Regions from separate parts of the Homo sapiens genome. Here all the other regions are linked to region 5. Evidence: fine-mapped expression QTL. A gene starts in region 5. Each other region holds a variant in brackets. All regions are shown on one strand. Distances are from middle to middle.

Region 1 (5,109 bases), 80 kb after region 5:
AGACTTAGACTCTCACACAATAATAGTGGGAGACTTTAACACTCCACTGTCGATATTAGACAGATCAATGTGACAGAAAATTAACAAGGATATTCAGGACTTGAACTCAGCTCTGGATCAAGTGAACCTAATAGACGTCTACAGAACTCTCCACCTCAAATCAACAGAATATACATTCTTCTCAGCACCACATAGCACTTACTCTAAAACAGACCACATAATTAGAATTAAAACACTCCCTCAGCAAATGGAAAAGAACTGAAATCATAACAAAATTATCTTAGAATATAGTACAATCTAATTAGAACTCAGGATTAAGAAATTCACTCAAAACCACAAAATTACATGCAACTTGAACAACCTTCTCCTGAATGACTCCTGGATATATGACGAAATTAAGGTAGAAATCCAGAAGTTCTTTGAAACCGATGAGAACAAAGAGACAATATACCGGAATCTCTAGAACACAGCTACAGCACTGTTAAGAGGGAGATTTATAGCACTAAATGCCCATATCAGAAAGCTAAAAATCTCAAATTGACAACCTAACTTCATCATTAAAAGAGCTAGAGAAACAAGAGCAAATTAGTTTTAAAACTAGGAGAATACAAGAAATAAATAACATCAGAGCACAAATGAAGGAGATAGAAACACGAAAAACCCTCCAAAAAAAATCAATGAATCCAGGAGCTGGGTTTTTTTTTTTTTTTTGAGGTGATGGATACTTTATTTATCCTAATGTGATTACTACACCTTGCATGCCTGTATCAAAGTATCTCACGTACCCCATCAATATACATAGCTGCTATGCACCCACAAAATTAAAAACTTAAAAAGAAAATAAGCACTTTTGTGTAGCAGACACTATCAGAAAGTGAAAAGACAACCTATTAAATGAAAGAAAAAAAATTTTTTTTTATTATACTTTAAGTTTTAGGGTACATGTGCACAATGTGCAGGTTAGATACATATGTATACATGTGCCATGCTGGTGCGCTGCACCCACTAACTCGTCATCTAGCATTAGGTATATCTCCTAAAGCTATCCTTCCCCCCTCCCCCCCACCCCACAACAGTCCCCAGAGTGTGATGTTCCCCTTCGTGTGTCCATGTGTTCTCATTGTTCAATTCCCACCTATGAGTGAGAATATGCAGTGTTTGGTTTTTTGTTCTTGCGGTAGTTTACTGAGAATGATGATTTCTAATTTCATTCATGTCCCTACAAAGGACATGAACTCATCATTTTTTATGGCTGCATAGTATTCCATGGTGTATATGTGCCACTTTTTCTGAATCCAGTCTATCATTGTTGGACATTTGGGTTGGTTCCAAGTCTTTGCTATTGTGAATAGTGCCACAATAAACATACGTGTGCATGTGTCTCTATAGCAGCATGATTTATAGTCCTTTGGGTATATACCCAGTAATGGGATGGCTGGGTCAAATGGTATTTCTAGTTCTAGATCCCTGAGGAATCGCCACACTGACTTCCACAATGGTTGAACTAGTTTACAGTCCCACCAACAGTGTAAAAGTGTTCCTATTTCTCCACATCCTCTCCAGCACCTGTTGTTTCCTGACTTTTTAATGATTGCCATTCTAACTGGCGTGAGATGGTATCTCATTGTGGTTTTGATTTGCATTTCTCTGATGGCCAGTGATGGTGAGCATTTTTTCATGTGTTTTTTGGCTGCATAAACGTCTTCTTTTGAGAAGTGTCTGTTCATGTCCTTTGCCCACTTTTTAATGGGGTTTTTTTCTTGTAAATTTGTTTGAGTTCATTGTAGATTCTGGATATTAGCCCTTTGTCAGATGAGTAGGTTGTGAAAATTTTCTCCCATTTTGTAGGTTGCCTGTTCACTCTGATGGTAGTTTCTTTAGCTGTGCAGAAGCTCTTTAGTTTAATTAGATCCCATTTGTCAATTTTGGCTTTTGTTGCCATGGCTTTTGGTGTTTTAGACATGAAGTCCTTGCCCATGCCTATGTCCTGAATGGTAAAGCCTAGGTTTTCTTCTAGGGTTTTTATGGTGTTAGGTCTAAAGTTTAAGTCTTTAATTCATCTTGAATTGATTTTTGTATAAGGTGTAAGGAAGGGATCCAGTTTCAGCTTTCT[A/G]CATATGGCTAGCCAGTTTTCCCAGCACCATTTATTAAATAGGAAATCCTTTCCCCATTGCTTGTTTTTCTCAGGTTTGTCAAAGATCAGATAGTTGTAGATATGCGGCATTATTTCTGAGGGCTCTGTTCTGTTCCATTGGTCTATATCTCTGTTTTGGTACCAGTACCATGCTGTTTTGGTTACTGTAGCCTTGTAGAATAGTTTGAAGTCAGGTAGTGTGATGCCTCCAGCTTTGTTCTTTTGGCTTAGGATTGACTTGGCGATGCGGGCTCTTTTTTGGTTCCATATGAACTTTAAAGTAGTTTTTTCCAATTCTGTGAAGAAAGTCATTGGTAGCTTGATGGGGATGGCATTGAATCTGTAAATTACCTTGGGCAGTATGGCCATTTTCACGATATTGATTCTTCCTACCCATGAGCATGGAATGTTCTTCCATTTCTTTGTATCCTCTTTTATTTCACTGAGCAGTGGTTTGTAGTTCTTCTTGAAGAGGTCCTTCACATCCCTTGTAAGTTGGATTCCTAGGTATTTTATTCTCTTTGAAGCAATTGTGAATGGGAGTTCACTCATGATTTGGCTCTCTGTTTGTTATTGGTGTATAAGAATGCTTGTGATTTTTGTACATTGATTTTGTATCCTGAGACTTTGCTGAAGTTGCTTATCAGCTTAAGGAGATTTTGGGCTGAGACAATGGGGTTTTCGAGATATACAATCATGTCATGCGCAAACAGGGACAATTTGACTTCCTCTTTTCCTAATTGAATACCCTTTATTTCCTTCTCCTGCCTAATTGCCCTGGCCAGAACTTCCAACACTATGTTGAATAGGAGTGGTGAGAGAGGGCATCCCTGTCTTGTGCCAGTTTTCAAAGGGAATGTTTCCGGTTTTTGCCCATTCAGTATGATATTGGCTGTGGGTTTGTCATAGATAGCTCTTATTATTTTGAAATATGTCCCATCAATACCTAATTTATTGAGAGTTTTTAGCATGAAGGGTTGTTGAATTTTGTCAAAGGCCTTTTCTGCATCTATTGAGATAATCATGTGGTTTTTGTCTTTGGTTCTGTTTATATGCTGGATTACATTTATTGATTTGAGTATATTGAACCAGCCTTGAATCCCAGGGATGAATCCCACTTGATCATGGTGGATAAGCTTTTTGATGTGCTGCTGGATTCAGTTTGCCAGTATTTTATTGAGGATTTTTGCATCAATGTTTATCAAGGATATTGGTCTAAAATTCTCTTTTTTGGTTGTGTCTCTGCCCGGCTTTGGTATCAGGATGATGCTGGCCTCATAAAATGAGTTAGGGAGGATTCCCTCTTTTTCTATTGATTGGAATAGTTTCAGAAGGAATGGTACCAGTTCCTCCTTGTACCTCTGGTAGAATTCGGCTGTGAATCCATCTGGTCCTGGACTCTTTTTGGTTGGTAAGCTATTGATTATTGCCACAATTTCAGAGTGTGTTATTGGTCCATTCAGAGATTCAACTTCTTCCTGGTTTAGTCTTGGGAGAGTGTATGTGTCGAGGAATTTATCCATTTCTTCTAGATTTTCTAGTTTATTTGCGTAGAGGTGTTTGTAGTATTCTCTAATAATAGTTTGTATTTCTGTGGGATCGGTGTTGATATCCCCTTTATCATTTTTTATTGCATCTATTTGATTCTTCTCTCTTTTTTTCTTTATTAGTCTTGCTAGCAGTTTATCAATTTTGTTGATCCTTTCAAAAAACCAGCTCCTGGATTCACTAATTTTTTGAAGGGGTTTTTGTGTCTCTACTTCCTGCAGTTCTGCTCTGATTTTAGTTATTTCTTGCCTTCTGCTAGCTTTTGAATGTGTTTGCTCTTGCTTTTCTAGTTCTTTTAATTGTGATGTTAGGTGTCAATTTTGGATCTTTCCTGCTTTCTCTTGTGGGCATTTAGTGCTATAAGTTTCCCTCTACACACTGCTTTGAATGCATCCCAGAGATTCTGGTATGTTGTGTCTTAGTTCTCGTTGGTTTCAAAGAACATCTTTATTTCTGCCTTCATTTCGTTATGTACCCAGTAGTCCTTCAGGAGCAGGTTGTTCAGTTTCCATGTAGTTGAGCGGTTTTGAGTGAGATTCTTAATGCTGAGTTCTAGTTTGATTGCACTGTGGTCTGAGAGACAGTTTGTTATAATTTCTGTTCTTTTACATTTGCTGAGGAGAGCTTTACTTCCTACTATGTGGTCAATTTTGGAATAGGTGTGGTGTGGTGCTAAAAAAATGTATATTCTGTTGATTTGGGGTGGAGAGTTCTGTAGATGTCTATTAGGTCTGCTTGGTGCAGAGCTGAGTTCAATTCCTGGGTATCCTTGCTGACTTTCTGTCTCGTTGATCTGTCTAATGTTGACAGTGGGGTGTTAAAGTCTCCCATTATTAATGTGTGGGAGTCTAAGTGTCTTTGTAGGTCACTCAGAACTTGCTTTATGAATCTGGATGCTCCTGTATTGGGTGCATATATATTTAGGATAGTTAGCTCTTCTTGTTGAATTGATCCCTTTACCATTATGTAATGGCCTTCTTTGTCTCTTTTGATCTTTGTTGGTTTAAAGTCTGTTTTATCAGAGACTAGGATTGCAACCCCTGCCTTTTTTTGTTTTCCATTTGCTTGGTAGATCTTCCTCCATCCTTTTATTTTGAGCCTGTGTGTGTCTCTGCACGTGAGATGGGTTTCCTGAATACAGCACACTGAAGGGTCTTGACTCTTTATCCAATTTGCCAGTCTGTGTCTTTTAATTGGAGCATTTAGTCCATTTACATTTAAAGTTAATATTGTTATGTGTGAATTTGATCCTGTCATTATGATGTTAGCTGGTTATTTTGCTCGTTAGTTGATGCAGTTTCTTCCTAGTCTCGATGGTCTTTACATTTTGGCATGATTTTGCAGTGGCTGGTACCGGTTGTTCCTTTCCATGTTTAGCGCTTCCTTCAGGAGCTCTTTTTGGGCAGGCCCGGTGGTGACAAAATCTC
Region 2 (5,109 bases), 150 kb before region 5:
AGCTATTTGCACCCCCGTGTTTATCACAGCATTCTTCACAGTAGTCAAGACATGAAAACAGCCTAAGTGTCTACCGATAGTGAATGAAGGGTCACCTCAGAACTTACACCCACTAGGAGGGCATGTCGAAAGCAGGCTCACTTGGCCACTTTTACAACTTACTTCTGACCAGAAAGGCACCACCTTGGCTGCCCAGTGGATAACTGCCTGGGAGCAGGGAGACTCCCTGTCCTTGCTCACTTCCCCATTTACCTAATAAAAATATCCACTTTTTGCTCCAAAGGAGAGGTTTTGTGCTTCTCCCCCAAGCTACCTTTGGAAATAAATTCACTTTTTTTGTAGCGGGCCTCACACTTAATTGGACTCTACATGTGGTGAGCAACTGACCTGCTTTTGGTTACAGAATGAGTTTTAGAGATCTAATGTACAGCGTGAGAACTATTGTTAATGCTGTATTGTATACTTGAAGTTTGCTGAAACAGTAGATCAAAAGTGTTCTCACTACACTAAAAAAGGAACTATGTGAGAAGGTGGATATGCTAATTAGCCTGACTGTAGCCATTAGTTCATTATGTATATGTATATCAAACCATCATGTTGTAGACTTTAATAGTATAGCATTTTAATAAAAATTTTTAAAAGATTCCTTTAAACAAACATTAACAATACCATCGAAAAATATGAACTACATAGCAAAAGAGGTGAACACCTGTACACTGAAGACTATGAAATATTGCAGAGAGCAATACAAGATCTTTGGAGGCCAGGTGTGGTGGCTCAGGCCTGTAATCCCAGCACTTTAGGAGGCCAAGGTGAGTGGATCACTTGAAGTCAGGAGTTCGAGACCAGACTGGCAAATGTGGTGAAACCCATTAGTCTCCACTAAAAATGCAAAGAATTAGCCCGGAGTGCTGGTGGATGCCTGTGGTCCCAGCAACTCAGGAGTCTGAGGCAAGGGAGTCATTTTAACCTGGGAGACGGAGGTTACAATGAACAGAGATCATACCACTGCACTCCAGTGTGGATGACAGAGTAAGACTCCATTTCAAAAACAAATTTAAAAAATTAAAATAAAAAAGATCTTTGGAATATAAGTTATTTATCGTATTTTTCAAGATTCCTTTTGCTATTTGCAGATACTTGCAATTTCTTCCAAATAAAAAGTTCTGTTTTTTTAATTTCTGAAAAAACAGGCCACTGGAATTTGAATAACATTACACTGAATCTGTAGATTGTTTTGAGTTTCATTTCCATCTTAACCATGTTAAATCTTCCAACAATGGACACAGGATGTCTTTCCATTTTTTTAGTTCTTCTTTAATCTCTTTAAGCAATGTTAGGTAGTTTTCAGTGTACAAGTATTTCACCTTCTTAAATTTATTCCTAGATGTGTTATTCTTATGGGTGCTATTATAAATGAAGTATATTAATTTTCCTTCAAAATTTTTTTCATTGCTAAAGCAACTGGTTTTTGTCCATTTATCTTGTGTGCTACAAGTTTGCCGAATTAGTTTATTAACTCCCGTAGTGTGTGTGTGTGTGTGTGTGTGTGTGTGTGTGTGTGTATTATTTGGTATTTTCTCTATATAGGATCATGTCATCTACAAATTGAGATAATTTGTTTTCTTTCCAAACCATTTTTGCTCATCTTCTTTTTTTTTTTTTTGAGATGCAGTCTCACTCTGTTGTCCAGGCTGGAGGGCAGTGGCCTGATCTCAGCTCACTGCAACCTCCAACTCCCAGTTTCAAGCAATTCTTCTGCCTCAGCCTCCAGAGTTGCTGAGACTACAGGTGCCCACCACCACACCCAATTAATTTTTATATTTTTAGTAGAGACAGTGTTTCACCATATTGGCCAGGCTGGTCTCGAACTCCTGACCTCGTGATCCGCCTGCCTCGGCCTCCCAAAGTGCTGTGATTACAGCTGTGAGCCACTGTACCCAGCCTCATCTTCATTTTTGAAAAAGATTTTCAGTGGGTATAGAATTCTAGGTTGACTTTTTTTTCAGTACTTAAAAGTATTGCAAACTTCTTGTTTGTAATATTTCTGATGAGAAATCAGATGCCATCCTTACATTTAGTCCTCAGTATATAACATATTTGTTCCCCTTTTAGCCCTCTTAGGATTTTCTCTTCATTACTGGTTTTGATCAATTTGAGTATGGTGTTCCTTAGTGTAGTTTTCTTCATGTTTCTTGTCCTTAGGATACATTATGTTTCTGGGATATTTGCAGTTTATGGTGTTCATGAAGCTTAGAAAGCTTCCATCCAGTGTGTTTTAAATATTTTTCTATCCCTGTTACCCACTCCATTCCCCTCAGGGATTCCATTTACCCCTACAGTAGGGTGTTTAAGCCTCCCATTGATGGGCTTTTTATGTTTTCAATTCATTTTTCCCTGC[A/G]TGTTTCATTTGTGTTAGTTTCTTCTACTACTCCTTCTAGTTCATTAATCTTTTCTTCTGCAATGTTTAATCAAGTGTATTTTTTTTAAACTTCAGACTGTAAATCGCAGTTTTCACTTATGGAATTTGATATTAAAAAATATCTCCCAATTCTTCACTTAATTAAAATTATAATAACTGCTGTAATGTCCTTGTCTGCTATTTCTAACATGTGTGTCATTTTCAACTGAATTATTTCATTCTTCGTTGTGTCTCATGTTTTCCTGTCACTTGCCTGCTTGAGATTCTGGGATTTGATGCCACACATTTGATGTCAATGCCCAAATGTGCCCAGTGGCACAACACGGCCTCAGTGTCCATGCACACCCAAACTTGTGCAGCAGGAGAGGCAGGAGAGCAGAGGCGAGTGTGCCACACATGGGGTAGGGAGTACCCCACTTGTGCTTGGGGCTTTCCTCTGCCTCATTGAAAAAATAAGTGTTCCTTTTCTTTTCCATAAGACCTGCCCTATTTCAAGCCCTGTCCCTCCAATGATAGGACAGTCCTCTCTCCAGTCTCATGCCTGCCAATGGGCGGACAATGGTTCAAAACAATTCAGGGGAGAAAGCATTGTCCTGTTAACAAATTCTGCTGAAAAAATGGACATCCATAGGCAAAAATAGAAAAAAATCCACAACCGATGTTGGCAAGGTTGCATAGAAAAAGGAATGCTTTTACACTGTTGGTGGGAGTGTAAGTCAGTCTAACCATTGGGAAAGACACTGTGGCTACTCCTCAAAGACCTACAGGCAGAAATACCATTTGACCAGTAATTCCACTACTGGGCATATACCCAAAGGAATATAAGTCATTCTGTTATAAAGATACATGCTGGCATATGTCCACTGCAGCACTATGTGTACAGGATGGAACATGAAGGCAGACTAGGAGCATGACCACTGAAGCACAGCATCACAGGGAGACGGTTAGGCCTCCAGATAACTGCGGGCGAGCCTGACTGATGTCAGGCCCTCCACAAGAGGTGGAGGAGTAGAATCTTTGCTAAACTCCCCAGGGGAAAGGGAGACTCCCTTACCCAGTCCACTAAGTAGTGGGTGTTTTTCCTTGACACTGAGGCTACCGCTAGACCACGGTCCACATGGCAATGGGCGTCTTCCCAGATGCTGGCATTACCACTAGACCAAGGAGCCCTCTGGTGGCCCTGTCCGGGCATAACAGAAGGCTGGCCCTCTTGTCTTCTGGTCACTTCTCACTGTGTCCCCTCAGCTCCTATCTCTGTATGGCCTAGTTTTTCCTAGGTTATGATTATAGAGCGAGGATTATTATAATATTGGAATAAAGAGTAATTGCTACAAACTAATGATTAATGATATTCATATATAATCATGTCTATGATCTAGATCTAGTATAACTCTTGTTGTTTTATATATTTTATTATACTGGAACAGCTCATGCCCTCAGTCTCTTGCCTCGGCACCTGGATGGCTTGCCGCCCACGAAATATAATAACTGACACAGGCAGGGGTGATTAATTGATGATAAAATGTTCAGAGGAAGATCGTTAGAATACAAGATATTTATACTTTTTCAAACCACTTTCCAAATGAATTATAAATAAGGAGTCTTTACAAGTGAAAGATCTCCTAGGCCCCTCCTTAACCAACTGACCAGTCCTGGTATCATGATACTGGTGATGGACAAACTGGACCTTCTCTGCCTGCAGATGGGCTGAGGTAGGAAACTCACCGCATTGACTCTGCAGTGTTCCCAGCAAAATGTTTAGGCTGAATTTAATCATAAGGACATTTTCAGACAAATTCAGAATGTAGACCATGATCTAGACAGCTGACCTGTCCTCTACAAACAAATCCATGTCACCACCATCAGTGACAACAATAAAAAGATGAGATGCTTTGGGTTCAAAATGACCAAAGAAGTGTAGCTACATTATCTTTTCAATCTTTTTCAACCCAAAATGTCTCTTCTCTTTTTTGTTGTGTGATTCATGGTGACGTGGACTGTGTGAAGGAGATAGGTCAGTTGTCCTGCTCAGTGTTCTACATTCTGCAGTTGTCTGGTGATTACCTCCTACGAAACTCAGGCTAAGTGCTTTCAGCAAGAACGTGGCATTGTTCTTATTCTGCACTGGCAAAGTCCCGGGTGACATGCTGTCTCCTGCCAGCGGCTCCTGACTCCTGTTCTCTACGGGATAGGAATTGAGAGGAGCAGGGCTAAGGCCTCTCAATGCTGTTTGTTCATCTGGGCATCAGTCTCCTTAGGTACTGATCATAGTTGATCACAATTGGAGGGGGAAGGGCTGTGGCTTCTCAAATCAAAGGAGGCTGGTGGGTTAAAATCATCAACAGCATTTCATGGTCTTAAGTTCACTTCTCATCAAAGGATCCCTGTGGTGTTGTGTTTGATCTTGAACTTGCTTTGCTGTTTTAGTCTTTTCCATCAAGTGAAAAAACTACTTTGATGACATCCTTTCATCCTTTTCATTCTTCCAGCAGTATTTGGTATCTTTAGGGGAGAGAGAGACAAAAATCAAATGAGAATCTTTGTCTGGTCCTGTCTGGCTGAGTCTGGAGGGACTGCTAAGTGATGATAACCCAGGGGCAAACTGAGCTCCTGCTGGGAGGACCAGCTGCAGGGTAAGCCTCAGGCTGGCTGAAGTGGCAGGTGCCATCCACAAGTGAGAAGAAAAT
Region 3 (5,109 bases), 93 kb before region 5:
TCATCTTATGTCATTGTCATTAACTCCATTCTGCCCTTGCCTATGTCATCTACCATGCTATCTGTTTCACTGCATGGCACTAGAGACAGAGCCATTTTTCCAACTTTAAGTTTACTAAAAGACTCGCATCTCTGAAAGAAAATGGAAGTCAGTGGTTCTCTTTGATTTTGGTATTTAAAGCCATCATTAGGGTCAAGTGGAAATATGTTTTCTCCAGAAGTTATTAGGGGCTGTTCAATGCAGTAACTTTTCACTTCTTACGCTACAGTTGATCCCATCTGTGATAGTTAATACTGAGTGTCAACTTGATTGGACTGAAGGACTAAAAATATTGATCCTGGGTGTGTCTGTGTGGGTGTTGCCAAAAGAGATTAATGTTTGAGTCAGTGGGCTGGGAACGGCAGACCCACCCTTAATCTGGTGGGCACAATCTAATCAGCTTCCAGCGAACTAAAGCAGGCAGAAAAACGTGAAAAGGACAGAGACGGGCCTAGCCTCCATCTTTCTCCCATGCTGGATGCTTCCTGCCCTCAAACATTGAACCCCAAGTTCTTCAGTTTTGGGACTCGGACTGGCTCTCCTTGCTCCTCAGCTTGCAGACAACTTATTGTGGGACCTTGTGATTGTGTAAGTTAATACTTAATAAACTCCTATATATATACATATATATATAAAATAAACTATATATACACACACATATACATATATATATATATATATATATATATATACACACATATCCTATTTGTTCTGTCCCTCTAAGAGAACCCTGACTAATACAGATTTTGCTACCAGGGGTGGTTCTAGAGGAACAGAATATTAAGGATGGAGTTTTTCATTGGTTTTGGGGTTTCTGGAGTTGGCTGCTTAATATTATTGGACCCAAAATGCTAAGGACTCTACTTCTAATAGTATGGAAAACATTGATAGTCTTCTGTGCAAACAGTTTAGAGAGTTATGCAAAATAGATGCATTTGACACTCATGATTCACTGCTCATGAGAGGCAAGGAGTTTAGTGACTCTATACATAATACCTTTGACCATATGTGAAGAACTAAGGAACATAATGAAGCTGGTTAGTTGCTCATAAGTTCAGTGGACAAAGTGATGAAAGAAAAGGATGAACTCAGGGATTCTGTCTCCCAGCCTCAGAAGCAGACACTGCACCTCAAATCTGCTAACACTGCCCTGAGTGAGAGTCTTATATCCTGTAGATAAAAAGCTGAAATTGTGGAAAAACAGACACAAGCTTGCATCATGCGATTGGCTGACCTGCAATGAAAGATGAGTGCACAGCCTAGCCAGGTGTCTACCGTTAAAGTGAGGGCATTGACTGGAAAAGAATGGAACCCTGCAACTTGAAATGGGGACGCGTTACTCCTAGGGAGCACAATGCCAAGAGGAGAAAAATGTGGCCATAAGCCTCTGCCCCACACCCCAGAGCCCAAGAAACAACTGTTGGATTAGCAGGAATAAAAAGTGCTTGAAGAAGTGTTAGAGACTTACCTTTAACAGTTCTTTTTAGGACCAGGAGAGGTTAAGGAAAAAGGACCATTTCATCTACCGAAATAGTAATAATTATATTCTTCTGCACATTCAGTTTACAAAGGGTTTTACATATATTATCTCATGAATATTTATTGAGTAATTAATTTTTTGGACACCATGATAAGCACTGGAGGTACACAGGTCAGTGAATAAGATTTCCTTTAAGACCTCAAACTTGTAGAAAATAAGTGCTCAAAAATATACTTTTATCAGAATGTGGGAATTGTTCTAACCTCTGGATATTATAGCAAGGTAGGGACAGGGCACATAGGATGAGACATTTTTTCCTAATCAGAGGCTGGAACATTGAGAATTCTCAAAGGCAATCCCATTCTCATCACATTCTCATCCCATTCTCATCCACAGGAGGATGTCTCAGAGAAGAAAGGATGGCATAAGGCAGGGTCTTCTCTAAGGAAGAGTCTTTGCTACAACCTTAGAGAGTGTAGAGAATCTCCCAGAGGATTACTGGGATAATATAGGGAGCTAAAAGGAATTCAAATTGGAAAGAAAGAAGTAAAATTACTTCTGTTCATAGGTGACATAATCTGAAATGTAGAAAAACACTAAAGATTTCACAAAAAACTATTAGAACTAATAAATGACTTTAGCAAAGTAGCAGGACACAAAATAGCACACAAAAATAATTTATGTTTCTATACCCTAACAATTATCAAAGGAGAAAATTAAGAAAATAATTTTATTTACAACAGCATCAAAAAATATACATAGGAATTAGCCAAGAAAGTGAAAGACTTGTACAATGAAAACTATAAAATATTGCAGAAAAATATTAAAGAATGCATGAAAAAGTGGAAAGATGTCCCATATTCATGGATTGGAAGACTTAATATTGCTAAGATGTCAATACTACCCAAAGTGATATACAGATTCAGTGCAACCTCT[AG/A]TCCAAAATTCCAACAACTTTTTTTTTTGCAAAAATAGAAAAATCCACCTTACATTCATATGGAATCTTAAGGGGCCCTGAATAGACAAAACGATATTGAAAAAGAACAAGCTGGGTATGGTGGCTCATGTCTGTAATCCCAGCACTTTGGAAGGCTGAGGCAGGAGGACTGCTTGAGATCAAGAGTTCAAGACCAGTCTGAGCAACATAGCAAAAACTTGTCTCTACAAAAATTTTTTAAAAAGAACAAAGTTGGAAGACTCATATTTCCTGACTTCAAAATTTAATACAAAGCTCAAGTAATCAAAACAGTGTGGTACTAACACAAAGACATATAGATCAATGGAATAGAATAAAAAGCCCAGAAATAAATCCTGTATATATGATCAAATGATTTCTGACAAGGGTGCCAAGACCATTCAATGGGGAAAAGACAGTTTTTTCAACAAATGGTTCTGGGGAAGCTGGATATCTACATGCAAAAGAATGAAAGTGGACCCTTGTTAGGCTGCCCCTTTCCTGGTCCACATGGGCTAAAGAGAGCAGACAACTAACTCACTGTGTCATTTTTTGAAGCCTGAAGTTTCTGCCCTTTTCTCTTCATCTTTCAGAGTCTCCTTATGTTTATTGTATAGAAAATGTCCAGGGTTTTATTTCTACTTACTGGTAGGAATAGGGAAAAGCATGCCTATTCCATCTTCCCAGAAATGAAAGTCACTCTGCCAGCCTTTTCGTTTTTGTTAGAAAAAAGGGCTCACTCTGTCACCCAGGCTGCAGTGCACTGCATCATTGCTCACTGCAACCTCCAACTCCTGAGCTCAAGCAACAGCAATGCCCTTGCCCCAGCCTCCCGAGTAGGTAAGAATACAGGTGCGTACCACCACAGCTGGCTAATTTTTTTTTTGGAGATGGGGTCTTGCTATATTGCCCAGGCTGGTCTCAAAGTCCTGGCCTCAAGCAATCTCCCTCCCTCAACTTCCCAAAGTGCTGGGATTACAGGCATGAGCCATCATGCCTGGCCTCAGCTTTTTAATGTAAGTTCTTATTTCACCTTCACTTTTTGAAACGTATTTTCACTGGGTAAATAATTCCAGGTTGTAGGGGTTTTTTTTCTTTCAGTACTTAAAAGATGTTGCTCCACTGTGTTCTAGCTTATAATTGTTTTGATGATAAATCTGCTATCACCCTTATCTTTCTTCCTTTGTACATAACTAGTTGTTTCTCCTCTGGCTGCTTTTACAATTTTTCTAACGGGTTTTGAGAGATTTTATTATGATTTGCCTTCATTTAGTTGTTTTATTTTCTTATTTCTTGTGCTTGGGGTTAATTGAGCTACTTAGATCTGTGGCTTTATAGGTTCCATCAAATTTCGGGAAATTTGGGTCACTATTTCTACTAATATTTGTCCTATTCCTCTCGTACCTCTTTTGGGTATTCCAGTTGTCTTGGTCCATTTCTGCTTCTATAACAAAATATCACAGCCTATGCAATTTTGAAATAATAGAAATTTATTTTGTGCAGTTCTGGAGGCTGGGAAGCCCTAGATCAAGGCACCGGCACTGGTGTCTAGTGAGAGTGGCTCTTCACTTTCAAGATGGTTGCTTGTTGCTGTGTTCTTACATGGTAGAAGGCAGAGGGCAAAAAAGGCCAAAACTCTGTGTGAAGCCTCTTTTATAAATGCCTTAATCCCATTCACATGGGAGGACCCCTCAAGACCTAATCTCTTCCTAAAAGGCCCCAATTAATACCACCACAATGGAGATTAAGTTTCACCATGAATTTTGGAGGGGACACACATAGTACCAATTATTATGCCACTTGAAGTTTTTCCACAATTCACTGATGTGTTGTTCATTTTTAAGCCCTTTTTCAGTTTTATTTTGTGTAGTTTCTATTCTTACGTCTTTCAAGTATAATCTTTCTTTGCAATGTCTAATCTAATGTTCAGCCTATCCAGTTTACTTTTCTTCTCATGATTTGTAGTTTTAATCTATAAAGTTCAATTTGGGTCTTTCAGACGTGATAAAACACACTTACATATTTATATATATATATAAACATGTTTGCTTTTTTCTCCAGCTTTTGAACTTATAAACTTATTATTGTTTCAACTGTCTGCTATTTCTACCCTCATGTAACAGTTCTGAGTCAATTTCAATTGATGGATTTTTTTTTTTCTCATAATGGTTTGATTTTTCTATTTTTTTGAGTGCCTCAGTTTTTTTCCGATGTCGGATATGATAAACTTTTTCTTGTTTGGTGCTGAACATTTTTGTTTTCCTATAAATATTCTTGAGCTTTGTTCTAGGATGCAGGTAAGTTACTTGGAAACAACTTGATCCTATGGCTCTTGATTTAAGATATTAGATCAGACCATAGACATGTTGTATTCATTTCCTATCACTGCTGTTGACAAATTTCAACAAACTTAGTGACTTAAAACAACACAAATTTATTGTCTTACACTTCTGTATTTCCACATCCAAATGGGTCAGTAACGCAACAACAAAAAACCAAATACCACATGTTCTCACTCATAGGTGGGAATTGAACAATGAGAACACATGGACACAGGAAGGGGAACATCACACTCTGGGGACTGTTGTGGGGTGGGGGGAGGGGGGAGGGATAGCATTAGGAGATATACCTAATG
Region 4 (5,109 bases), 120 kb before region 5:
ACCTCCTGGACAAAGGTAACTATGAGTTTGTCCCAATTGCCTGGGGTCCATGACACTGGGAACAGGGAGACAGAGGCATGATATGGGCTGAGGAGGAGAGGAAAACTCCCTAAACCTCCTGATATCTGTGTTTAGTACCCCATCCTAATTTCTAATTCAAACCAATTTGTTTGTATAGAGCTCTTTTTCAGAGTTGATCTTCCTCAGCCTAGACAGAGGTATGAGGGACAGGGAATATAGAGTCTACCTGGGAGAATGTGTAGAGCATCCTCCCATTCATCATGAGAGGATTCACTGTCTACAACCAGCCCAGAGTCAAATTTGTCTGCCTCAAATGTGATTTTGGTGTTCCTGTGTGGCTGGTTGGAGTCCTAAGTGCCGTGGCTATTTGAACAAGTGACGGCACATTCCTCCAGTGAGTCCTCAGGGACTTCCTTTTCTTCAGCCTTCTGCACCTCCCTGATGAGTCAGGTGGGATAGAGATGGCAAAATATTAAACAGAGAGGGATTGGACACCAGGGAGTCCTAGCCAGTTTTGACAGAGGCATAAGAGAATTGTCCCCAAAAGCAAAGGGGTGGCTCCCTCTAAGAGGGAACAGGCACTCCTCCTCTCTCTGCAAGAGATTGTGGATGCCATGGGAGCCAAAGAGGAAGAGAGCAGCTGGTGTTCATTGCACTGGGAAGATAGGAGCTGAAGAAGATGGAGGCTCAACTGTCTCTATGTGTGCAGATGTGACACTCAGCATGCATGGAGAACCATAACAGCTGCTACATCGTGTGCCAAAGTTGGGTTGAATTTAAATACTGTGGCCAAAGGAATACAGGCTCTTGAGCCACTGTAGGCTCCAGAAATGGTGTGCCTTCTAGGTCTTTTTTTTTTTTAATATTGTGAAATGTACAATTTTTTTCTAGGTACTTCTCTTGATGTTTATATTTTCTAGAAACTTCCTAAATAATTCCTCTGTTTGTTACCTCTTTACTATTTTTTTGAGACACATTCTCGCTCTGTTGCCCAGGCTGGTGTGCAGTGGCACAATCTTGGCTCACTGCAAACTCCACCTCCCGGATTCAAGCGATTCTCCTGCCTCAGCCTCCCAAGTAGCTGGGATTACAAGTACCCACCACCACACCTGGTTAATTTTTGTATTTTTAGTAGAGACGAAATTTTGCCATGTTGGCCAGGCTGGTCTCGAACTGCTGACCTCAGGTGATCCACCCACATTGGCCTCCCAAAGTGCTGGGATTACAGGTGTGAGCCACCATGCCTGGCCCACCTCTTTGCTATTTATCTTTCTTAACAAGAACCTGAAGACAATCATGTAGAAAGCAGCTTTGCATCTCCTCCTGGTTTTCATTACAGGAGAGAACAGTTCTCTGTGAATGCAGGAAATCCCTAGGGCTGGTGGGTTTATCGAGGGTCATGCTTACAAGGACCATGAAGACAATGGACTAGGGCTATTTCCTTGTTGGGTGAGCGCATGAAATGAGCACACTCTGCAGCTTTCTTTACCCTCCATCTGGAATCTGTGACTACCTTCAACTCACTTGTATTCTTTCTAAGACCTTTTCCATGGTTTATCCACCCACTACCTGCCTGATTATTCAGTGTTACCTGGGGGCAGGTGATTCTCATCCTTTATGAATCTCTTCATCTTTATCATTTTCATTATCACCTTCATCATTCTCTGCAAACAAATATAGAAGTGTCCATTTAGATATTCCTCACTTCACACACTGCAAGTACAGCAAGCCCTATGTGCACAGAGACATTAACATCTATGTATGGGTCAGCATTGTGCTGAAAGCTCTCATGTTTTATCTTTAACAAAATTCCCTGGTATGGTTTCCTGATCCATCAGGCAATGAATTTCTGATCTGGAGGGCCACCATCAAGCTGTGGCCAAATATTGAAAAGACCTTTTGCTCCCCGTATCACTGGAGGCTTGTCCAGCATCTTTCTGGACTTTGGCAGCTGTCTTCCCCATCCTGCCACAGATCTGATTCCCAGGCACAGGATCGGTGTCCTGTCACAACTCTCACATTTAGAATATATTTCTTTCTCTTACGGGAGGACAAACAGCCTTGTCCCACCTTTCTCCATGCATTGGGAGACTTCACAAGCCCTCCAAGTTGGCTTCTGCTGTGTTATTCAGGGACATTCTCTCCATGGGGAGTGCTCCAGTCTGAAGCACTTCCTACCACCAAATGCCCCCACATCAAGTGCCTTCTCCAACACCACACGGTGAGGGGCTTCATCTTATTTTGAAATGTAATCATAAGTGTTCCCATATTTGAATGCTGTATCTACCATTGAAGAGACATTTTGACCCCTGTAGAGATTTAGACAAAGAAATCCAGAAAGGATAAATCAATCACTCACCCAAGGTTACTAAGGACATTGCTGAAGATACAGCCTGGGAAACTTCATTCTTAATCCAGGACTCTTTTTACTCTAACAAGTTGCCTCCTGTCACAGCCTCCTTCCTATCCTTTAAAACTGAATGGATATGGCCTCTTGCTCCAAAGAACGTGACTATCAAGGAGGAGGAGACATTTGCAATACTGTGACCTCTAACCCCATGGACTTCTTGTCTCTGTTCCTACCCAGGAAATCCTGGTCATGTCATGGCCACATATGTTTAATGGAAAGAAACACCACCTATGTAACTGTCATTGTGGAGGTATGGAGGTGTAGAGTCTCTCACAAGCCTGGGGTTTTGTGTCATCAGGGCCTGTGGTCTCCTTATCTGGGCTGAGCTTGTGGACAAGGTGCTCAGCCAGCCTGCTCTCAGAGGTCCTGCCCCTGGGAGTTGTCAGAATCATCAGGAGTGAGGAGGGCCTTGAGATGCTGATTCAGTAAGAGGAAGGCATCTCTCCCTTCCCGTAACTTGTCCTGTAACTGGGCCGGCTCTCGGGCCTGGGAGTGAACAGAGACTTTATATTGCCTAAGGTGGGATAGTAGAGAAAATTTAGTAGTGGAAAGAGATGAGTGATCAGTTCTAATATCGAAACAAAGGAGCCCTCCACGCAGAAAGTCAGCACATATTAAAGGAAAT[G/A]CCTGTTGCAAAGAGAAAGAAAAATGTATTTTTTTAAAAAAACAGGTCTTCCCCACTGCGATAGAGAGAGAGAGCTCCAGGAAGATTTTTCAACATTCCATTCATCTTTTTCTTCTGTAACCAAATCAGTTCCAAAAGGATTTTCCTTCAATTTCTCATTTTGCCTGTGGACATTTTCATGTTCAAATACACATCGTGCATTATTCAGTGACTGGACACAAAGCCGTGCACAGAAATGTGGCCAGGTACAACTGGAAACATGAAAGAATAAAAGAATGACAGTGTCAAGAAGGCAATAGTGGTTGAAGAAATGAGAAGCCCAAGTCAGTTAGGAGTTGATTCTGACTAAGAGTAAATGCAGTGGTGATCGCACAGCATCTTGAGTATACTGAATGCTGCTGGGTAGTTCACTTTCCTTTGGTTAATTTTGTGTTATGCAAATTTCACCTCAACAATTACTTGTTAGAAAAAGAGAAAACGAGGCTCTGAGAAATAACTGCAACCCATAAATTACTATTATTGTTCTCTGTTTTATAAATATTTGTGTGACATGTGTCTGCCATGGCAATTCCTGCCCTTCCCCTGGCTCGGCTTAGCTCTTACTTCTCCCCCGCTGAGCTGCTGCACAGAGATTCACACTCCTGCCCACCTGCCTGCCCCCAATGGGGCCCCCTCACCTGAGCTTTCCAGCTTGCCTGAGCTTCTCTGCCAGCTTCTCCTCCTTGAACTGCAGCTCATCCCTCAGCCTAGATTTTATGAGGTCTTTGCACTCTTCACACTCTGAGAAAAGACAGACACACCTGCCTCAGTGGAAGGCTGGACATGCTGTTGCAGTCACTGCCTACAGGGCAGGAGCCAGGTCCATCCCAAGGACAAAACTGTCCCCAGTACCAGGCTCTAGGCAGGGATTGCACATCTTTACTCTTCAGTCTCCTCACTTCCTGGCATCTGATACTCCCCAACTTAGAGATAGGAAAAAAGCTCAGGGGCCCACCAAGCAACTTGACAAGATGATTCACCTGGAATGAGGTAGGGTCAGAATTCACAGCCCCTGAGGTCTGACTCTGAATCATGGGACACTTTCCCAAGCCTTGCAGCCTCTCCTGCACTGGGGCATAAAGTAGTGATTTTCTGTACAGCTGGGAAGGCTTCTAGGACTATGGGACTGTGAAAGGAAAATATCTTGGGCCTCCAAAATCACTAAGGAAAACTCAAGCTGGGAACTGCTTAAGGCAAACCTGCCTCCCATTCTATTCAATCACTCCTCTGCTCACTGAGATAGATGTATATCTGATTTGACTACTTTGGAAAGGCTAATCAGATACTCAAAATAATGTAACCATTTGTGTGTCACCCATCTGTGACCTGGAAGCTCCCTCCCATGGAAGCTCCCTCTCCACTTTGAGTTTTCCTGCCTTTCCTTCAAGATTTCCTGTCTTTCCAGACTGAACCAATTTACTTCTTACATATATTGGTTGATGTCTCATGTCTCCCTAAATGTATAAAACTAAGCCGTGCCCCAACCACCTTGGGTACATGTCGTCAGGACCTCCTGAGGCTGTGTCCTTGTGCGTCCTCAACCTTGGCAAAATAAACCTTCTAAATCAACTGAGACCTGTCTCAGATTTGTTGGGTTCACATTTTGGTAACCACCACGGGGGGATTCTGAGTGGAGATGCCCCTGACCTTTGACAAATCTCCTGTCAGTGCTTGGTACCAGCATGAGCTAACTTTATGGCTCAAGCCAATAGGATAATTTGCTGAGATCTGACAGCACCCCCTCCAGAGAATCCCTGATCTCCCCAAATTTGGTTGAGATCTTAAGTTTATTTTACTGTACAACTCTTCTTTTTTTGGAGTTTTACTTGCTTTCAACAGGAAGGCAAATTTTCCTGCTTCCATGACAATGGAATGCAGGTAACTCCTTTATGAAGTTTGAGCTTGCTTCTTCCAACAGGGAAGATGAGTTGTTTTCTCTTCTTCTAGGATGGTAGAGAGCAGTCTACAGACTGAGACCAATCACTAGTTAAGAAACTAGTTTGGGATTGTATCT
Region 5 (5,109 bases):
TATGTGTATGCACATCAAAAGCACAGGACTTTTTTCTTTACCTTGTTTATGATGCAGAGACATTTGTTCACATGTTTTCATGCTGACCGTCTCTCCACTATTACCCTATTGTCCTGCCACATCCCACTCTCTGAGAAATGCCCGATAATGATCAATAAATACTAAGGGAACTGAGGCTGGTGCCAGCGCAGGTCCTCTGTATGCTGAGCGCCGGTTCCCTGGGCCCACTTTTCTTTCTCTATACTTTGTCTCTGTGTCTCTTTTTTTTCTTAAGTCTCTCATTCCACCCGACGAGAAATACCCACAAGTGTGGAGGGGCAGGCCACCCCTTCACTACCTGATTTTTATTTATTGCTTGTCTCCTCCTTTTAAAATGTAAGATCCAGGAGATAAGTGGCCTCTATCTTCAGTACCATAGAGTGCTTGGCACATAGTATGTAATTCAGTCAGTGTCAGGCCTCTGAGCCCAAGCTAAGCCATCATATCCCCTGTGACCTGCACGTACACATCCAGATGGCTGGTTCCTGCCTTAACTGATGACATTCCACCACAAAAGAAGTTTAAATGGCCCGTCTTTGCCTTAAGTAATGACATTACCTTGTGAAAGTCCTTTTCCTGGTTCATCCTGGCTCAAAAAGCTCCCCTACCGAGCACCTTGTGACCTCTCACTCCTGCCCGCCACAGAACAAACCCCCTTTGACTGTAATTTTCCTTTACCTACCCAAATCTTATAAAACGACCCCACCCCTATCTCCCTTCGCTGACTCTTTTCGGACTCAGCCCACCTGCACCCAGGTGAAATAAACAGCTTTATTGCTCACACAAAGCCTGTTTGGTGGTCTCTTCACACGGACGCGCATGAAAGTCAGTATTTATGAATGACTCAAGACACAAAAATAGCTTCATAAAACAGTGCTTTGCTTGAGTTTTTATGAATAAACCAATCTGAAGTCATCCCTTTTCTAGCTCAGAACAAATTTCTCCCTTTTATTTTAGAGGAAGATGAGAATGGAGGGTACAAATTTAACATGAGTTTACTGAAGAAGGAAGCACCAAGATTAACCTAAATGAGAATACTATTCTAATGACATTAGCCAGAGAATAATATCGTTCCTGTTCCAGTACTGCCAATTACCATTACAAGTCCCAATATCTTCATTTACAATGTGGGGACAATTATAACACCTAATTATTGGTTATTGTGAAGGTTAAATAAGAAAATATACTTAAAGCCCTTAGGACACCACCCAGAACTTCATCAATAAATGCAGCTATTTTGTTATTATCATATTTATATTAGTGGTATACTACATCATAAATCCACTCAAAGCTGATGCTGAGTCACGGTGACCCCTAACTGAACACATTGCCTCAATCTGCTCCCCATAATGCACTTGAGATACCCACTGCCACAATGACGTCTTTGGTGATTTTAATTTACTACTATTCAGAGGTTCCCAATTTTGGCCTACAGGTCACAGGCAGTAAGAAAGGGATTTCAGGGACTAAATCAATTTATCACTAGGTAAACCGAACAAGAACAGTTTGATCTTATCGTGAATCACTGGAGGGCACGGAACAAGTCTTACTTCTAGAACCCCCAGGGCCCAGCGGAGTGTCTGACACATGATAGTCGATGTTGATTAAATAATAAATGAATGATGAACACATGCCACCTCCTTGACGGGCAGTTCAGGCAATCAGACGTCCTGTGCGTGATCAGACGCCTAGCGCTTCAGAAGCACGACTGGTGAGAACTGGGCAGCCCTTCCACGCTCCGCACTGCAAGAACTGCCTGTCCGGAAGGGTGACTGCACCAGCTCCGCTCCGGATATCTTGGCAGGACGCGCCCTCTGGCGGCGCCTCGCTCGTAGGTGGGCCCCAGCGCGCAGTCGCGCGCCCCCGCGCGTTGGGAAGTTGGGAGGGAGGTGCGCGCTTGGCCGCGCGGGGCGGGGCCTCTACCGGCCCGATGGAGCGCGCGGGCGCTACTAGCCGCGGGGGCCAAGCCCCTGGCTTCTTACTGCGGCTTCATACTGAGGGCCGAGCCGAGGCGGCGCGGGTGCAGGAGCAGGACTTACGGCAGTGGGGGCTGACAGGTGAGCGGGCTCCGGGCGGACTTCGGCCAGGCGGGCCAACCTATTGGGACTGCCTCTTGCGGGCCGGGGGCGCAGCGGGTGGGCCGCCCGGTGGGCAGTTTACCCGCTCGCGCCAGGGCCTTCCTTCGCTCCTGCCGTGGGCGGAGAGAAACTGCGCCCGGGCTTGGTGGCCACGGCCCCCGCCTGCGCGGCGCGCGGGGCCGGCGGACGCCAGATGAATGAGGTCGCGGGCCCGGTAGCCAGGCCTGGCCCCTGGCCTGTGGAGGGGAAACGTGGTGAGATCAGCGCCACCTGCAGGCCTCCGCTGAAGAGTTGGACGGCCTGGTGCACCAAGGATGTAGGTTTCCAGTTGCTGTTCCGGTGGGTTTGGGTCCCGGCCTGGGGAGTTTATTGGTTGCTTCTGTAAAACGATCAACTCATCTCCCAGCTTCAGCTTCTCCGTTTACTGTGCGCGCGCAGTTATTGGAGAATTCGCCACGGATTAATTCTCCGGATCGAGTTACGTGCGGTAGTGAGCGGACAAACTCAAGCAAAGCACTGTTTATGAAGCTATTTTTGTGTCTTGAGTCATTCATAAATACTGACTGAACCACGTACTATATGCCAACTTAGCTTGTCCGCTCACCACCGCACGTAACTCGATTTATTGACACTAGCCCTTACGGAGAGTCTGCAAAGCGCGAACCTTGCATGCCCCCCAGCCCTGCCGCTGCATGGCTGACCGTACTTCCTGCAGCTCCGAGACCCCGCTCTCCTCCTGGGTCTGCGCTGACTCGCCGCTGAACCGCCCCAGCCTCGTTTTCCTTACTTATAAGTTGGGAACGTAGTGTGTGCTTTGACTGTATTGACAGAATCATGCATCAGTAATAATACAGTCGTTTATTCATTACTTATTGAATGCTACTGGGAGCGTATTCTTAGGCATTGGCTACAAAGATGAGCAAAACAAATAGGGACCCTTCCTACCTAGAGTTTTAGACTAGTGAGAGTGCATTTAAAAGTATAAACTAATTTATTTAAGTGCTCAGTACCACGAAAGAGTAAGGTTTGTCATTCTAGGAATGAAACAAAAGGTGCAATTCTGTGTTCAGCTTAGAAGACTGAAAGATGAAGTTGAATGGAGAGGACGCTGACATGAAAGAGAAAGACCTCTCTCCTTGATTCCCTGAGTCTGTAAGAATGTGTGGCTGTAAGGAGTATGTATCCAGTTTTAAGTATGAGCTTGTAGACTGGTCTTTTTATGTTTGACTTTATCTTAACGAAAGTTTATGTTTGTGGGTTTGCCTATTTCCTTGCAAGTGTTGGGAATGGTTCTTTAAGAACTTGTGTGAGAGAGGGCTCAGAAAAGTGTGCCAGTTGATACTTAGCTGTGGATAATATGCCAGGAGAAACGTACATATGGGCAAGTGTTTTAGTGAAAATGAGGAGACAAGAGGTTGCAAGTTTGAGTGGATGGAATGGAGTGAGTAAATTCAGAATTAAGTAGGCAAATGTGGCAACTTGGATAAATTGGTAGTGGAGAAGGAAAATAGAAAAGCAGAGTCAAAGGAATGGCTACTGAATATTATAACTTGTAATTTCTATTTCTGTTTACCAGAATAAACTAGTGTTATGAGAAACTATTCTTCATGAGTTGGTTAAAAAAATTCTTACTACTTTTTTTTCGTTTGGTTACAGAAGTAGTACGTATTTTCAGTAAAACATTCAGGGAAATAGCCTATGCATAAAGAAAATAAATATTAATCTCCATAATCTCCTTACTGTTAACATGTTCTCTATCCTGTATAATTTCTTTTACTTTCTGGTGGAGGGGGAAGGTGAAAAATGGAGTTTCATGTACATTTTTTTGGGAAATCATAACTTTTTTTCCTTATCATTCAGTCTTCTTCAACATCATTCTTAATGGTTACAGTTTTTCAGTATATGGATGTACCATAGTTTAGACAGTCCCTCTTCTTGGTATTTAGGTTCTTTTTTTTGCTATTGTAAGTAACATAAATATCCTTGTAACCAAATATTTATTATAGGTATGGACGTTTAATTCCTGAAAGGTACCATTTCTAGAATAAAGAGTATGCAAAATTTTTGCTTATTTCTCTATACTCTCAGCAACACTGGTATTTTCTAATTTGAGAAGTTAATATGCTATCGTATTGTTTAATTTAATGTTTATTTGGTTACCAATATTGATGGACATTTGGATATTCATCTTTGGATCATGAAGTTACCTTAGGACCTTTTTGTTTCTGGAATATGCAGACCTATTACTTCTTGCTGTTTTGCTTGCTTTTTCACTACTTGTCATCTCCCTGACAGAAGGGCAAAAGAATCTACATCTGGAGGTTAAAAAGCTAAAGACTACCTTTCCCAGACCCCACTGTAGTTTGGTTGTAAACGTGACTTGGCTTTAGCCAGGCACGTGACTGGGAGATTTGGAAGGGGAAAGTGAGGGGAAGGACACAGAGGGGTTTGGATTTTCCGCTTCCCACTTAGCTACTACCTCATGGGTCTGTGGGAGGGTACAGAGCATTCATTTTGTTATCATGGATTGTGGCTGCGTTGATAGGTCCCTGGGGCTGACAGTACCGTGGCCTCCTGGTTGGTTCCTGGCTTCCAGGTCGTGGAGGTAGATACTTCCTTGGTGTGTCCATACTGTGGTGCTTGATTTAGCAGTTGTACCCAGAAGATCAGCCTAGATGTTACTCCTCCAGGCCTTTCGACAATTTTGTGGTGATCTAATTCCCTGTATTACATTCCTTTCTGCCTAACCTACCAAGGGTAATTTCTGGTTTTTGCTGTTGACTCCTAAGTGTTAAGTATTGTTATCTTTGTGGATATAATTACATATTATTTTTGAAAATTCAACTTTTTTTTTTTTTGAGATAAGGTCTCACTCTGTTGCCCAGGCTGGAGTGCAGTGGCCCATTGCAGCCTCGACCTGGGCTTCAGTGATCCTCCCACCTCAGCCTTCTGAGTAGCTGGGACTACAGGCATGAGTCACCAGTTTTAAGAA

Direction of the effects. Positions count from the first base shown, and alleles are read on the strand shown. Sizes are in standard deviations (SD) of each study's normalised expression. Not every link is listed here.
With allele AG in place of A in region 3, the expression in lung of the gene that starts at base 1,950 in region 5 is higher (small effect, 0.28 SD a copy in GTEx).

What was found.
Region 1: its variant is fine-mapped to the expression of CHD1L in whole blood (TOPMed, PIP above 0.99).
Region 2: its variant is fine-mapped to the expression of CHD1L in whole blood (TOPMed, PIP above 0.99).
Region 3: its variant is fine-mapped to the expression of CHD1L in lung (GTEx, PIP above 0.99).
Region 4: its variant is fine-mapped to the expression of CHD1L in blood mononuclear cells (TOPMed, PIP 0.92).

Annotation. Positions count from the first base shown.
Region 1 is chr1:147,320,890-147,325,998 of GRCh38, forward strand. No RefSeq gene overlaps it. Among named protein-coding and RNA genes, the nearest start is that of CHD1L, 81 kb to the left of the region's middle. The variant A/G (reference allele first, on the strand shown) is at 2,114.
Region 2 is chr1:147,094,970-147,100,078 of GRCh38, forward strand. It overlaps the pseudogene NBPF13P. Among named protein-coding and RNA genes, the nearest start is that of RNVU1-8, 13 kb to the left of the region's middle. The variant A/G (reference allele first, on the strand shown) is at 2,402.
Region 3 is chr1:147,147,310-147,152,418 of GRCh38, forward strand. No RefSeq gene overlaps it. Among named protein-coding and RNA genes, the nearest start is that of PRKAB2, 23 kb to the right of the region's middle. The variant AG/A (reference allele first, on the strand shown) is at 2,456.
Region 4 is chr1:147,117,340-147,122,448 of GRCh38, forward strand. No RefSeq gene overlaps it. Among named protein-coding and RNA genes, the nearest start is that of RNVU1-8, 35 kb to the left of the region's middle. The variant G/A (reference allele first, on the strand shown) is at 3,057.
Region 5 is chr1:147,240,735-147,245,843 of GRCh38, forward strand. It overlaps CHD1L (chromodomain helicase DNA binding protein 1 like), which reads left to right and starts at 1,950. Exons shown (of 23, transcript NM_004284.6): 1 at 1,950-2,096. The coding sequence starts at 1,970. RefSeq lists a silencer at 1,782-2,401.